Regions from separate parts of the Homo sapiens genome. Here region 2 is linked to region 1. A link means that fine-mapping ties the variant in region 1 to the expression of a gene that starts in the linked region. Tissue or cell type: nasal epithelium. Region 1 holds a variant in brackets; the other region holds the start of a gene. All regions are shown on one strand. Distances are between the middles of the regions.

Region 1 (8,165 bases):
TGGGGCCTGCTACCGTGTAATATTGCCTAAAGATGATCTGTCCTTCCCAGTAACAAAGCAGTGCATGCTCCTCACAAAAAACTGGAAAATAGGCCAGGTGCAGTGGCTCACACCTGTAATCCCAGCACTTTGGGAGGCCAAGGCAGGAGGATTGCTTGAGTCCAGGAGTTCGAGACCAGCCTGGGCAATGTGGCGAAACAAAAAATACAAAATTAGCTAGTGGGATGGCATGCACCTGTAGTCCCAGCTACCCAGGAGGCTGAAGTGGGAGGATGGTTTGAGCCCCGGAAGCGGAGGTTACAGTGAGCCAAGATCGCATCACTGCACTCCAGCCTGGGCGACAGAGCCAGACCCTGTCTCAAAACAAGCAAACAAAAAACCCCCCAAAACCGACAACAACAAAACCTTCTGGAAAATAGAGAAGAGCACAAAGAAGGAAATAAAAATTGCCTTTAGTCCCCAAAACCAGAGTGCTGGCTGTGGCTTAATAGAATGTTCTTCTGCAGCTGGGACTTAGGGAGCCGAGGAGGAGAGGGAAACACGAGCACCATCATCATCCGAGGGCCCTTGACCCTTGGCCCCACACGGGCTAAGCCTTTGGAACTTCAAGGTCTCTTACATTGTTATGTTGTTGCTGTTGTTGCTGTTGTTTTGTTGTTGGATTCTTCATGATTCACAAAGTCCTGGAGGTGACCAGTTTGGCCTGAGCTGTGAAAACCGATATAGTGACCTGGGTTTAAATTAGGTCTCCACCAACCTAAAAGTTGTCTCATCTTGGTTGGCTCAGTCATTTAACCTCTTCAAAGTGAAGCAGTGAGCCTGTGTGTATGATGTGCATAATGGTTGTATGTGTGCATATGTGTATGTGATGTGTACATGTGTAGGTGCAGGTGTGGATATGTGAGTGTTTCCTCAGTTTCCTCATCTCTACAATGGGGTAAAAACAATGACCTTGAAGGGCAGTTGTTGGGGTAGACATTGTGTCTGGCCTCCTCCTGTTTTCTCTCAGACCCTTTTCTCTCCTTTCTGCTTTCTGTTCTACAGTGTGGAGAGGGTCCCTTCCAGGGCCCCTGCCCTCTGGCTTCAGATAGGCTTGGACAAGTGAGTAGAAGCCTGGAGGGCAGAGGCGGGGAGAGCTCAGGGTGTGTCTCCCTGCTCTGCTTCTGGGGGTGTGTCAGGCAGTGGCTGCCTCTCTGCTGCGGCTCCAGCTCCTGCCAGAGGCCCCAGAACCATCAACTCTGATGACCCCACCTTGTCCCTTTGTCCTTTCCTGTCCCAGCCCTAGTGATGGTAGCAGTGGCTTCCTGTTGTTACTAACCTCTGGGTGACCTCGACATCCTCATATGGCTGTTCATCAATTCAAAGCTGCAAAACAAGTTCCCTCTATTAAACTCCCTGGGTTGGAAGATCTAGCATGGTTTTGGTTTTGTGCTGGGACCCTGATCCGTACAGAAATGACAAGCAGGGCAGTGTCTGGTGCCAAGAGGAGGGTCAATGTGTAGCACTCAGGTCTAGAGCTGTGGCCCCTCGTGGGCTTATGACAACATCACCAGCTAACCCCTTCTCTCAAGCGAAGAGCTCAACCCTGCCTTCTCGCCTTTCTTGATCAAAGCCCTGACTTAGCTCTTCGGCATTTTTTTTTTTTTTTTTTTTTTTGAGATGGAGTCTTGCTTTGTCATCAGGCTGGAGTGCAGTGGTGCGATTTTGGCTCACTACAATCTCCATCTCCTGGATTCAAGCAATTCTTCTGCCTCAGCCTCCTGAGTAGCTGGGACTACAGGCCTGCGCCACCACACCCAGCTAATTTTTGTATTTGTTTGTTTGTTTTTTGTTTTTTGTTTGAGACGGAGTCTCACTCTGTCACCCAGGCTGGAGTGCAATGGCATGATCTTGGCTCACTGCAAGCTCCGCCTCCCAGGTTCACACCATTCTCCTGCCTCAGCCTCCCGAGTAGTTGGGACTATGGGCACCCACCACCATGCCCGGCTAATTTTTTGTATTTTTAGTACAGACTGGGTTTCACCATGTGGGCCAGGATTGTCGTGATCTCCTGACCTTGTGATCCACCCGGCTTGGCCTCCCAAAGTGCTGGGATTACATGCGTGAGCCACTGCACCCAGCCTCTTTTGGCATTTTTAGTAACATGACCCAGTGTAAGGGAATGGGCTCTGGCAGCCCTGGGTTTGAACCTAGATTCACTATTAGTAGCTGGGTGACCTTCAGCAGGCCGCGTCAACTCAGCTGCATTATCTAAGCTCAGGGGATAAGAATACCTAATTCACAGAGATGGTATTTGTAAAGTACTCAATAGAGAGTAAACAGTCAGGTGTGAGGGCTCATGCCTGTAATCCTAACACTTTGGGAGAATGAAGCAGGAAGATTGCTTGAGCCCAGGAGTTAGAGACCAGCCTGGGCAACATAGCAAGATCCCATCTCTAAAGAAAGAAAGAAAGAAAGAGAGAAAGAGAGAGAGAGAGAAGGAAGAAAGGAAGGAAGGAAGGAAAGAAAAGAAAGAAAAGAAAGAAAGAAAGGAAAGAAAGAAAGAAAGAGAAAGAAAGAAAGAAAAAGAAAGAAAGAAAGAAAAGAAAGAAAAGAAAGAAAAGAAAAAATTAGCCAGGTGTGGTGGTGCATGCTTGACCTGCTCAAGGTCACCCAGCTAGTAATAGTGAATCTAGGTTCAAACCCAGGGCTGCCCTACTGCAGAGCCCAGTAATCCCAGCCACTTCCGAGGCTGAGGTGGGAAGATGGCTGTAGCCTAGAAGTTGGAGGCTGCGGTGAGCTGTGATTGCGCAATTGCACTCCAGCCTGGGCAAGAAGTGAGACCCTGTTCTCAAAAAAGAAAAAAAGGAAAAGAAAAAAAAGTATGGTGTCGTGTTTGTTGACTGTTATTAATCAATATTATCACCACAGACCCTTCCTTCAAGAACGTGGGATCTTTTCACCCGGTTGTGTGCGAGTGGACATTGAAATGGCTCACTTCTGGTCTTTCTAATATCTCTTGATATGAAGAGTGCAAAGACTGCTGGGAAAGATGGGAACATTTGCACAGGGGCTGAGAATCATGGGAAGAAAAGGGAAGAGACCCAGAACCTTTCCTTTCAATGTTGGCCTGAAAACATCTTGAGTAGATTGAGATCATCACCAAAAGGCTGGGGACCATGATGGAGAGCTGAGTCTGGTGGAGTTGAATTTGCCCACACTGGGCCCACAGGTTTGCTTCTACCTGGCATGTCTTTTCATTTCTTGTCCATCCAGCAAACTTCTATACATCCTTCAAGACCCAGCTGAGTTAAGGCCTATGGTGACCTTTGGTGACATCTCCAGTAGAATTAAACCCCATCATTCCTTCTGCTCTCAGCACTTGCGCATACTTCAGTGGTGGTGCCTACACACCCTCTTCTGTGAACTCTTAACGGCTCACACATCCTCCCGTCACCATGCCTGTCACATCCCTGCAGGAGTAGGAGGAGCCATGAGGGTAGTTGGTAACTGCTGAGCACTCACTGCATGTCAGGCACTGTGCTGTGTGTGTGATGCGTGTCACCCCACTGGCCCTCACCACTTCCTATGGGGTGTCACCACTTTACAGATGAGGGGACAGACAGGTGTACAGACCCATCGCTACCTGACTCTGGAGGCTGCATTCTCAACCTCCCTCATTTTGCTTGTGAACCCCAGAGAAAAGGGATCGGCTTATACCCTCCTTTGGGTACCCAGTAGCTGGCAGGATGCCTGTCACCAAGTGGTCACTTAAATGTCGGGTGAAATAAAGGAACATTCCACGGTGCTGACATGCCAAGGTTTATGAAACCACTTCCCTTATGTTGCTGTGAATATTTCTGAGCACAGCTCTCTTTCTTGGGCTGGATTATTTTCTTTGGGTCAGTTCCTGGGAGTGGAATGACTGGGCCACGTCATCTTCCACCTCCCAGAGCCGCTGGCAGTGAAGGAATAAAGCTGTTCTTTGCTGCCTTGCAGGCCAGGCCCTCTTCTCACCTTGATGTGGCTCCAATGCAGGCGCCCTGGCAGGCCTGAGACAGCTACACTGAGTCCTCTGGAGCCAGCGGTGGGGCCCTGTGCGGTCAGCGAGCCAGGATCCCCAGCACCACCCAGCACCCACAGCCCTTCCTCCAAACCCTCCCCAGCTGCCTCATTGGCAACTGGATTCTGTCTGGGGGCAGGGATCAGACCTGCAGGCATCCTCCCTGACCACACCACTGCCTCTGGCTTCCTTATTTGGAGGGTAAGAGATGAGGAGGTAGGAGAAGAGAAGAGGGCGGATGGAGGCAGCACAGGGAAGAAAGGATTGGGCAAAGGAGGGCAGGCCATAGGGAAGGGGTGGCCCCGAGT[C/A]CGTGCCTGGGGGTTAAACCTCCAGCACCCCATCTCATTTCTCCAGGGCTGGGGCAGATGGCCCTCCCGATTTCTGCAGACCTTCCTCCAAATCCTCAGCTCACAGAGGGAAAGGCGAATTCTCACTCTGGACAGGGACTCTGACCTCAGGTCCCTCGGCTGTGCTGAGAGCTCAGGGGTGGGAGAAAGCAGGCAGAGGGATGCTGGTGCCCCTGCCCTTCCCATGAAGACCCCCTTTTTCTCTGTCTCCTCTCCTTTCCATCCATTTATTTCCTTATCTTCCTTTATGGGTATTTCCACTCCAGTTACAAATGGGAGAAGACCAGGGATGCCCAGTTAAGACCAGAGACATCTCGTTTAGCACAGAGTCACCCAATTTAACTCAGAGACACCTGGTTAAGGGTGTCCTGACCAGTTGAGACCAATTTTTGTATGTTTTATGGTTGCCAGATAAAATCCAGGATGCCCAGTTCAATTTGAATTTCAGATGGGCAATGAATAATATTTTTAGTATAAGTATGTCCCAAATATTGCACAGGACACACACTAAAAAAAATTCATTGTTTATCTGAAATTCAAATTGAACTAGGCATCCCATATTTTTATTTGCTAAATCTGGCAAAGACAGTGCATTTCTCTTCTTTTCCTGAATTTTAAACTCTTGGGATTCGGCATCTGCCTCCCATCCTACTCCACCAACCAGCTTCCCTCTTCCACCTTTTTGGTGGAAATTTGACTTCTCTTAAACCCGTGCTCTTTTTAATTTCTCTCCTTCCCTGGGTTTTATTTAGTTAAACAAAGTCACACTGGGTCTCCATTTCAAAGTGTTTGATGTTATTACTAGATACTGGGGTTGAGGCAGTCTAAGCTTTTCGAAAGGTTTCTTCAGGACATTGGAGGGAAATTAAACCTTGGAAAATATGCTTGACATTTTTTTTTTCTTTCTAAAAAGAAAGTCTGTGCGTTCAGTTCCCTTATGGTCACGGGAGCACAAACAGTGGAGTTAAGGCCAAAAAGCTCATTTCTCAAGCCGCCACCAGCTGCAGCCCCGGCCAATAAATGATTTATCTCCAGCTGCACGGGCCACTTTCTCAGGGTTTCCATCCTCAGCTGAGCTTGTTCAAAGAGGCCTCGAACTTGTAGGCTCAGAGGGATCCGAGGAACTAGCTAGACCAGAGCTTCCCAAACTACCATGTCCAACAGGTCACTGGGGGAGCTTTCACCAGTCCCATGCTCAGGCTGACACAGCCTCATCAGCTCAAAATCACTGGAGCTGAGACCCAGCCATCACGGAAAAAAAAAATAAACTTGGCCAGGCGCGGTGACTCATAATCCCAGAACTTTGGGAGGCCGAGGCGGGTGGATCACTTGAGGTCAGGAGTTCGAGATCAGCCTCGCCAACATGGGGAACCCCCATCTCTACTAAAAGTACAAAATTTAACCGAGTGTGGTGGCACACGCCTGTAATCCCAGCTACTCTGGAGGCAGAGGTAGGAGAATTGCTTGAACCTGGGAGGCAGAGGTAGGTTGCAGTGAGCCAAGATCACACCACTGCACTCCAGCCTGGGTGACAGAGTGAGACACTGTCTCAACAACAACAACAACAAACTCCCAGATGATTTTAGATTGAGACCCAGTGAACCAGAGTGGTGCTTCTCAATGGCTCCTGGAAGTTGATGGACAAGGACCCCAGCTCCCCGCCTGTTGGTTGCAACAACTCTGAAGTATGTGACCCTCTTCTATTGGTCACCCCTGTCCTCAGTAGCCCATCCTCCCACAGCAGTAACTGGCTCCAGTAAGCCCCCTTTCTTGGCTTCTCTTCCCTGTTTCTCTTCCACATTTCTCTATGGTGCTTCTTGAGATCACCTCCCAAATCACCTACTTGTACTCAAATCCTTCTCTCTGATTTTGACCGTGGTTTATGATAGGTCACTGTTGCCCACAGATGGATGGTTTAAAATGCAAATTCTCAACTTAACAGGCTGCCCAGAATGGCAGAAGACCCCAGTTTTTGGAGCCAGGCAGACAAGGCACAAATCTTAGTTTGGTGGCTTAGACATTCTAAATTACTGTGGCATTTTCCGAGTCTCGGTTTTTAAAATCTCTAAATTGGGGTTAATAATGGCTGCCTGTTGGGGTTGTTGAAGAGGATAGAATAAAACAGCTTCTGTAGAAGGTAGAATAATAATTTCCTATTTTCACTTCCCTGTAGTAGCATTAATATTAGATGTCCACACTCTTGCTATGGCCTCAGGTGGCAGAGTATACTTAATGTCCCTTAGCTTTGGTCTTAGCCATGTGACTTGCTATGGTCAAGGATGTTGACAGTCATGATGTAAGTGAAGGCTTGAGTGGGCTTGTGCTGTTAAGCTGGCTCCTGCACTTTTTTACCATCATTGTAGAAAATAATTTTTTAGGTAGCGCTGGTTCCAGAAGTATAAGAAACATACTAAGCAGAATTGAACCCATCCGATGGCCAGGAGTCAGGCCCAGCTGAGCCCCGCTTAGGCCAGCCAAATTCCATGTAACCCGAAGATGTTGTATGCTGTGAATTTTGTTACACAGCTTTATTGTGGGAATAGCTGACAGATACACTATTTATAAAAACACCTACACAGGGCCTGGTACATCGTAGAGGTCCAGTAAATGCCAGTTGCTGTCTCTTTTCATCACATACACTAACATGGGAGCCAAGACATTTCCCTGATTCTTATCCCTCAAATCAGACTTCTGGATAAAGACCTTGGAATGAAAGCCATGTTGGGATTGAAGCTCAAATTGGTAATGGAATCCTGCCCATGCAAACCCTCTTTCCTCATGTGGCTCCCAGCACTTCTCTGATCAGAGATAGAGACCTTTGTAACAGCATTAGTTCCCCCTCACCCCGTCTTTTAAAGGAGGCACAAGCCTGTCTTTTCCTAAACTTTCCTAGAAAGACCTCACCCCTTGTCTGTGTCTGTCACTTAGGGCACAGCATAAGCTGTTTCTTACCATTTCACTTTTCACCTGCCTTCATTAATGATAACTCTAATATAATAGTCAACATTTTAAAATATTAATTGCTCATCAGGCATGATGCTGGGTACTTGACATAAATATTGTTTAAAAGTCAGCACATCTAAAGATCAAATGAATGCTTCATTTACAAAATGTCTAATGATTTTGAATTATATGTGAGTCAAGGTTTCAAAGCCTGATTAATTATAAAAATATATTTTTCAAAAGTCAACACATCCTTATGGTGTAGATAATGGTATTATCTCTCATTTGCGTATAAGGAACTTGAGGCCCACAGAGATTTGGTGCTACCCAGACCCAAGTCCATCTGATCCCCAAACCATGCCCTTACCCCCACCCTATGCAGCCAATGTGGTCCCTCTAACTAGATTGCAAGGTCCTTGAATTCACAAGCTGTATCGGATGCACTTGGTGAGCCCATCACACACAGTAGTCACATGGCTGTCATTTAGTGACTGGCTGGAGCTGCAGGGATCAGGCAAGGGGTTTTCATGTTCATGGCAGGGCTGATCCTTCTGCAGAAGCACCCAACACCCTGGGCAGATCCTGTGCTTCCCACCGTCAGCATCTACCAGCCACACTGGACCAGTGTCTACCTCCTCTGTATTTCTGCTCAGTCTTAGGTGCTCTGTGAATTTCCAAAACACACAACAGGTCTCTGGGAGTCCTGGGAATTGTCACAATGCTTTTGTTGGCAAGCAACAGAAGCCAGGTTTGGGCTCTGGTGTCCTTTCCTTTCACTTTTCTTGTCTGCCCATTTCTGTAGATCCACTTGATTTTCTGCTGGATTTCCCCAT
Region 2 (6,542 bases), 160 kb after region 1:
CTTGCTGCAAGGCTTTCTCCAGCTTGATGGGGGCGGGGGTTAAAGTCCCCCCAGAAGAAGCTGTTAACCAATGAGGACTGGGAGTGGCTGGATAAATAACCAGGTCCTCACCCCTCAGCTGGGACGTCTCTGGGGTGTGTTCTACAGTTTCACAGCATCCCCAGAGACGCCGAGCCCTGTGTGCCCACACCAGTCACAGGCTTGATGTTGGTCCCCTTATTGGCTCCTGCTCATCCCACTTCTCCACCAATGTTTCTTATGATTATCCCCCAAATGAATGATTGAACAAACCCTACTGCCAGGATCTGCTTCCGGAAAAAGATAAACAGTGAACAGGATAAAGGAGGTCCCTGTCCCTGGACAGGCCCTTGAGGGCAGCTGGGTCTTCACTGGACCTATGTGTCATTCTAGGCTGCTTGCCCAGCTTAGCACTGTATACCGGGCACTCCACAAACACCGGTGAATGAATGAATGAATGAATGAACGAATGAATTTCCTCCCTGAAACCCAGAGGAAGGAGTGATTGTCCTAAAGGAGTATACCCATGTTCAGAAAGGTTAGATGGCCCAGCCCTGGTCAAGTAGGACTCATTGGTAGCAATTGCCAGCCAGAAGCTGGGATTCTTGACTTTCATTTGAAGCCGGGTCTCACTGCTGGAAAATGACTGAGTGTTCCAGAGTTAATCCAGGTTAATTCCTGCTGATTAATCATTAATGGGCTAAGGAACCGCCAAGATTAAAAATAGGAATGAACAGTTTAATTTCAACCCAATCGCTCTTTATTCCCCATGAAGGCTTGTATTTTTCACATCTTTCTAACAACAGCTAGTACAGTACTAGTGACAAATGGGGACAGGGAAGATTGAAAATTGTCCAAGAAATAGATGTTAGGCACGGGATTCTGCAGCAACAGGAGCTAGGGAAGTGATGGGGGGCAGTCTAGGCAGCCTTTGGTCGCTCAGAATCCAAAATTCCAAAGAAGCTGGCTTTGGCTCAAGTTCAAAGGGTTGGCTTTAAGAGACGCTGACATAATGGTTAAAAATCAAGCCTAAAATTATTTTAATTTAAAGACTTGACTAATTATGAAGACTGAGTGTTGGCTGATATTGGGGAGAAAGTCAGGGAATGAGGAAGTACCAGTTGCTCCGTTTTGTGGGACACGGATGAGTTTTCTTAGGTTAGAACCTCTCACCTTCCCCAACGCATGGAATAAAACGCCACAGAGTGGATTGTAATTATTGCTCTGCCGGCTGTGATTTGGTTGAGTATCTTAAATAGACCGTGCCTCAGTTGTACCCTCCCTAACAACGAGGGCGATGACATCCGCTTCAATTCCTCGTGCACCTTCTGGCTCTTCCACCCCAATTCCTCCATTTACTGAAGGAAATTCCTTCTGGTGCTGATTGCAATCTCTTTGATGATAAGAACTTGCTCTCCCTGGGCTGACCCCCAGCAGAGCTTGTCCTCATACCCGGCGGCCCGAGGGGGCGCTGCTTCGGGGGAAGTTAGTTGGGTTTAAATAAAGCAGCTTCCTTGGCTGTTCGCGGTTGCGCAACCCTGTTCAGCCACCGCCATGTCAGCCCAGCGGTATCCAGAGGCGCAGGCCCGGGGTCGCCGGGACCCGAACCTTCTGCTTCCCGCCTAGGCAGAGCCGGATCCTAGTCAGAGACTGCTGGGAGCGCCGCGGGCCCAGAGTGGGCGGAGCTGGCCGGAGACCCCCCCCTCGGTGGGCGGGGCGTTCCTGCTCCGCCCCGCCCCGCGCACGGCCGAGCGCCGCGCCGCTCGGCCCCGCCTCTCCCCAGCCCTGCCCCCTTCACCTCCCCGCAGCTCCTCCCCTCTCCCATTGGCCGAGGTGGAGACCCTCCTCTCTGCCCAATGGCCGCCGCCGCGGCTCGGCCACCCGCGTCCTGACTGGCCAGCGACCGGCAGAGTGGCGGGGTGCGGACCAATGGGAAGAGGCGGCTCGATGAATGGCTGGCCCGGGTGGGGAAGGCAGGAGGCGGCGATCCCGGCGGAGGGGGCCGTTCGCCAGCTCTGAGGCAGAAAGTGCCACGACTCCACACGCGCGCACGCAGCCAGCGAGCGGCCGGAGCGGACGGCAGACGGGGCGGGCGGCGTCAGGGTCGCAGCGTCTACAGCTGCTCGGGGGCGGTTTCTTGGCGGAGGCTTGGCCGGCTCCTCTCTCCCGGCTCCGCGGCGGCTGCGAAGGCGGCGGCTCCTGCCCTCTCGCTTTCCCTCTCGCGTCTCTGGCTGCAGGTAAGAAACTTGGCCGGGCCCTGCAGCGGCCGCGCGCGGGCCGGGCCGTCGGGGGGCCGGGGCCGGCCGCGCTGCGCCGCGAGTGACACGTCTCCTCGGCGGCCCCTCCCCCGGCCCGCCCGCCGCCCGCCGCCTGCCGCCGCGGCCGTGCACCATCGGGGTCGGGGTCGGACTCGGGGCGGGGGTGCCGGGCAAGCGCCGTACCGGGGCGTAGGCAGGGCGCGCCCCGTGGTGTGGACCCCGCGGCCCTCGCCGTCCGGGGAGCTGCGGCGGCAGACGGGCGCGACGTGGCGACCGCTCCCTGCCTCCCTCCCTCCCGGCAGGGCCGTCGGGCCGGCCAGCGCGCTCCGAAGTTGGGCGAAGAAAGTTGGCGGCGGGGCGGGGCGGGGCGGCGCACAGCTGGCGGAGGAAGGGGTTAAGTTTCGGGAAGCCGCCGGATGACGTTGCCGGGCTGGAGTCCGGGCCGGAGGGGTGGGGTGCGGGCGGAAGGCGGCGGAGGCCGGCCGAGGGGAGGAGGGCGGGATTGAATGGGGGCCCACGGGCCGAGCGCGCCGGTCCCGGGCCGCGGCCCGCTGGCGCTTCGCGGGGCTGGGACGGCCCCCGACGGGGCGGGCCGGGGCCGCAGGGCTCGCGGCGCAGGGACCGGGTCTGTCCATGGCACGGACGCCGGGCGGCCGCGGTGGCAACTTCCCGGAGTGCGGGAGGCGGCTCCCTGCTCCCCCTGGCGGCGGGGCCGGGGCCACCGTTTCCCCGGCTGGGCTGCGCGGAGCCTGGCTCGAGGGCTCCCGGCGGGGGGACGAGGGCGCCCGGGGCCCGGCCCGCCCCGCCCGCGGCCACGATGAATGGGCCGGCGGTGCCAGCCCCGGGCGGAAGCGGACACCTCCGGGCCGGCCAAGCGCGCTGGCACCCGGCCTGGTGCCCGCCCCGGCCCGGCCGGCTCTCCCGCTGCGCCCTGATTAGGGGAGGCAGGCCGGGGTCTGCGCTTCCAGTGGGGCGCCCGCAGTGCTTCAGGGACCCCTCTCCGAATGATAAGTCGCGAGTTTTAGCTCTAGAGTGCCCCGGCTGGCGAGGGTGACCCCGACCAAGTTGTTTCGTTCGGGGTCTCCATTTCCTGGTCTGCAAATCGGGGCTCCTGTTAGCTTCGATTTGCGAGGAAAGCTGTGGAGACCCAGCACTTGTAGGAAGGAGCCACAAGTGTTGGCTGTTCAGTTGGGATGCTTTTGTTGGGGGGTGCTGGACACGGGAGGAAGGTGGGGCCTGGCTCCGGCACTGCGGCGGGCGCGGGGCTGCAGAAGTTGCACAGCCGGGGTTCTACACCCCGGACCACGTACTGGCCGCCTACTCGCAGGTCCCATAGCCCCTCTGAATCCTAGTTTCTTATCTGTGGCCTGAAGACAGCACCACCCACTCACAGGGTCGGGAACCACGCCGGGAAGTGCTGGGACCTTGTACAAACAGAAGGCAATTTGGCAATTACTCTGAGAGGTCAGAGGTTAGGAGAGACTGGGAAGCACCAAGGAAATGAAACTCTGAGGGACCTGAGGAGCCTCCCACGTCACTGCTCAGCTATTCACTCTGCGTGCTGGAACCTTCAGGGTAGGGGCCATCTGGATGGCATTTTCAGGAATTTGGAGAAATGGGCCTGGTAGGGCCTCATATCTCACATTAGATACCTCTTCAGAACTGGGTGTCCCCAGAGACCCAGGACGTCTGTCTGGCACTCCCAGGAAGAACAACTGCGAATGTTACCCCGCCCTGTGCAGCTGGGGGGCATTCTCCCACTGCCCCGCCTCCCTCCTCACACTCCTTGTTTGATTTAACTTCCTGTTAATCCGACACCTAGAGAAATCTGTGACCCTGCAGCATGTCACTTACTGTGTGATGTCTTGACTCGTTTACGAACTTGCCAAAGGTCACTCCCACTATCATATGCCAACCTCTTTCCCTTCCAGAAAGAAGCTTCCGGTTCTGAGGTCCTGGAGGTGCCATTTCCCTCTCTGTTGAAGCAAAGGCCGGGGCAGACCTCCTAGTAGGTGAAGTTTTCCTTTTACATGGAGCACCGCAAAGCCGGCTTGCAGGGATCTTGGGCCAGTGGAGGCCTGGAGGAGGCTAAGGTTGGGGGAGGGGAAACCAGAAAGGGATCTTGGGGTTTAGGAGAGGGTTTAGAGCTCTAGGCACTATAACAACTCTCACCTTTCATACTTAGGAATCTGCCTCTGAACATTTACAGAGAGATTAAGAAGTTACAGTGGTTCATGGTATATGAGTATTTTTTGGTGATGGAAGAGTTTTAAATAAATCTTAAATCAAGTCACATTTGAGCAATTATGCTCTTTAATGAAATGAGCCCTAACTCAACAGGCTGCAATAATTACATAGCAGCAAACTCAGTTTAAATGGTTGAATGCCAGTGATTGAATTGGAGTATTGATTTATTATGTAGCAGGGACACCTTTTAAAAGTGTCGGGACCCCAGACTCTTCTTGTCTTTTTAGCCCTGGGAATTTTAACTAATAGATGAATGACACATAGAGGATCAACAGTTCTGTTGAGACAGCAAGTTTTTCTTTGCTAAAATCTTGTTTCAGGAGAAACAAAAATAATGGTCAAGTCAGAATGATGAAGGCAGGGACTGTGCTGTCCGTCTGTGCATGCTGGGCCTGCAGTGGTTAAGGCCTGGCCTATAACATCATAAATATTGGTTATACCAGGCGGACAGCGCCCCCATACCTGTTAAACTATTCCCAGCTGTCTCATTGGATAAATGAAGCTTAGCCCAACTTGGTTTTTAAGGTTCACTTTTTAGAATCAGATTCCACAACTGTGGTTTACATTTAGGCCTTAAAATAACCCTGTTCTAGGGGGTGGGAATGGTTGTCACCCATTCAGTGGATGAGAATGTGGAGGTCCAGCTGGTCAGAAGGTTGTCAGGCCAGTTCCTGTTGCCCAGTTGCTAGGCGATGTGGGCCCGGCCTTCCAAATGTTCCCTCCTGGCTATATACCTCCACCTTCCTGGGGCAATAATTACCCAAGGGAGGACACAGAACGTGAAGATCAAAATTAAGAGCTTCAGTGGCAGGAAGGTGGGGAGGCATTTTGAAAATCTGGCAGTGCTGAAGGTATTTTTCATTTCATTTTTTTCACCGAGGGTCTCCTGTGTGGTGGGCCTTCAAACACCGCAAGTGAGACCTAGTTCTTGCCTGAAAAAGCTACTGTCTAGAACTGTGTTGTCCAATACAGTAGCCACAAGTAGCAATTTAAGTTTAAAACAATTCAAATTAAGTAAAATTAAAAATTCAATTTCTGAGTCAAATTAGCCACATTTCAGGTGCTCAGTAGTCATAAGTTGGTCAGCGTGGCTGTAGATGGTTTCCACCATCACAGAAAGTTCTAGACAGTGCTGATGTAGAGGCAGCTGGTATTCTGTAAACATTCATGTCCCTGTTCCTCTTGATCATGTGGTAATATGTTGAACCACATGAAATTGCCCATTCTGTAGGTCAAAACCAGTTGACTAGTGGCAGTTGATACACTTCACCTGATAAGATCTCACCCTGAGAAAGCATTAGTCCCGCCTCTTTGTGTGCATTGTAAACTGCATTCCAAGAAAAAGGAGTGGGAGGGGGGCCACACAGATAGTGGCCCTTTCCTGGAGAGATTTTTTACCCAATGCCCTCAGCATCAAAATGGTGACTTGTAACAAAGACAGAAAATAAATTGATATTAGGTAGAAAGTGATGGCTTGTAAGGGAAGGTAAATATTTAATTTTAAGTGACAGTGCCTAGGCAAGGAGGCACTCTCACTTAGCATATAGAAAATTAGTTCAGGGGCCTCCTAGGAGACTTTTCTTAGGCAGACAAATTCTGGCCGAGTCTCCTGAAGCAGACAACCAGACACCCCCAAAACCAGACGTGTGTGTCCTTTATGTGCATTCAGTAACATGTGTCTTCCACCTGTCAACAATGGGCAGCAACTTTAACTTATCAAGAACATTTTGTGATTTCTAACTTAGATTTTTTTGGCAAGACTAGAATACCTGCCCAGTCCCGAAACCTTTTCAGTTCCAAAGTATTGGAGTTCCAGTGTTCTTGGGTGGCATAAATTGCTTCCTACACCAGTGACTATTTACACAGCTCTGTTATTCTCCATATAACTTTTTTTTCTTTTTCTTTTTTCTCTTTTTTTTTGAGACAAAGTTTCGCTCTTGTTGCCCAGGCTGGAGTCCAATGGCGTGATCTTGGTTTACTGCAACTTCTACCTCCCGGGTTCAAGTGATTCTTCTGCCT

Evidence for each region. PIP is the estimated chance that this variant, and not a neighbour inherited with it, causes the effect.
Region 2: it holds the start of RRBP1, and the variant in region 1 is fine-mapped to the expression of RRBP1 in nasal epithelium (TOPMed, PIP above 0.99).

Annotation. Positions count from the first base shown.
Region 1 is chr20:17,839,366-17,847,530 of GRCh38, reverse strand. The region is part of intron 1 of LOC107985440 (a long non-coding RNA gene); the gene reads left to right. Among named protein-coding and RNA genes, the nearest start is that of SNORD17, 120 kb to the left of the region's middle. The variant C/A (reference allele first, on the strand shown) is at 4,351.
Region 2 is chr20:17,677,741-17,684,282 of GRCh38, reverse strand. RRBP1 (ribosome binding protein 1) reads left to right here and starts at 2,041. Exons shown (of 25, transcript NM_001365613.2): 1 at 2,041-2,255; 2 at 4,208-4,284. RefSeq lists enhancers at 1,371-1,430, 2,684-3,356, 3,548-4,747 and silencers at 1,711-2,130, 2,361-2,690, 2,721-2,770, 2,801-3,110.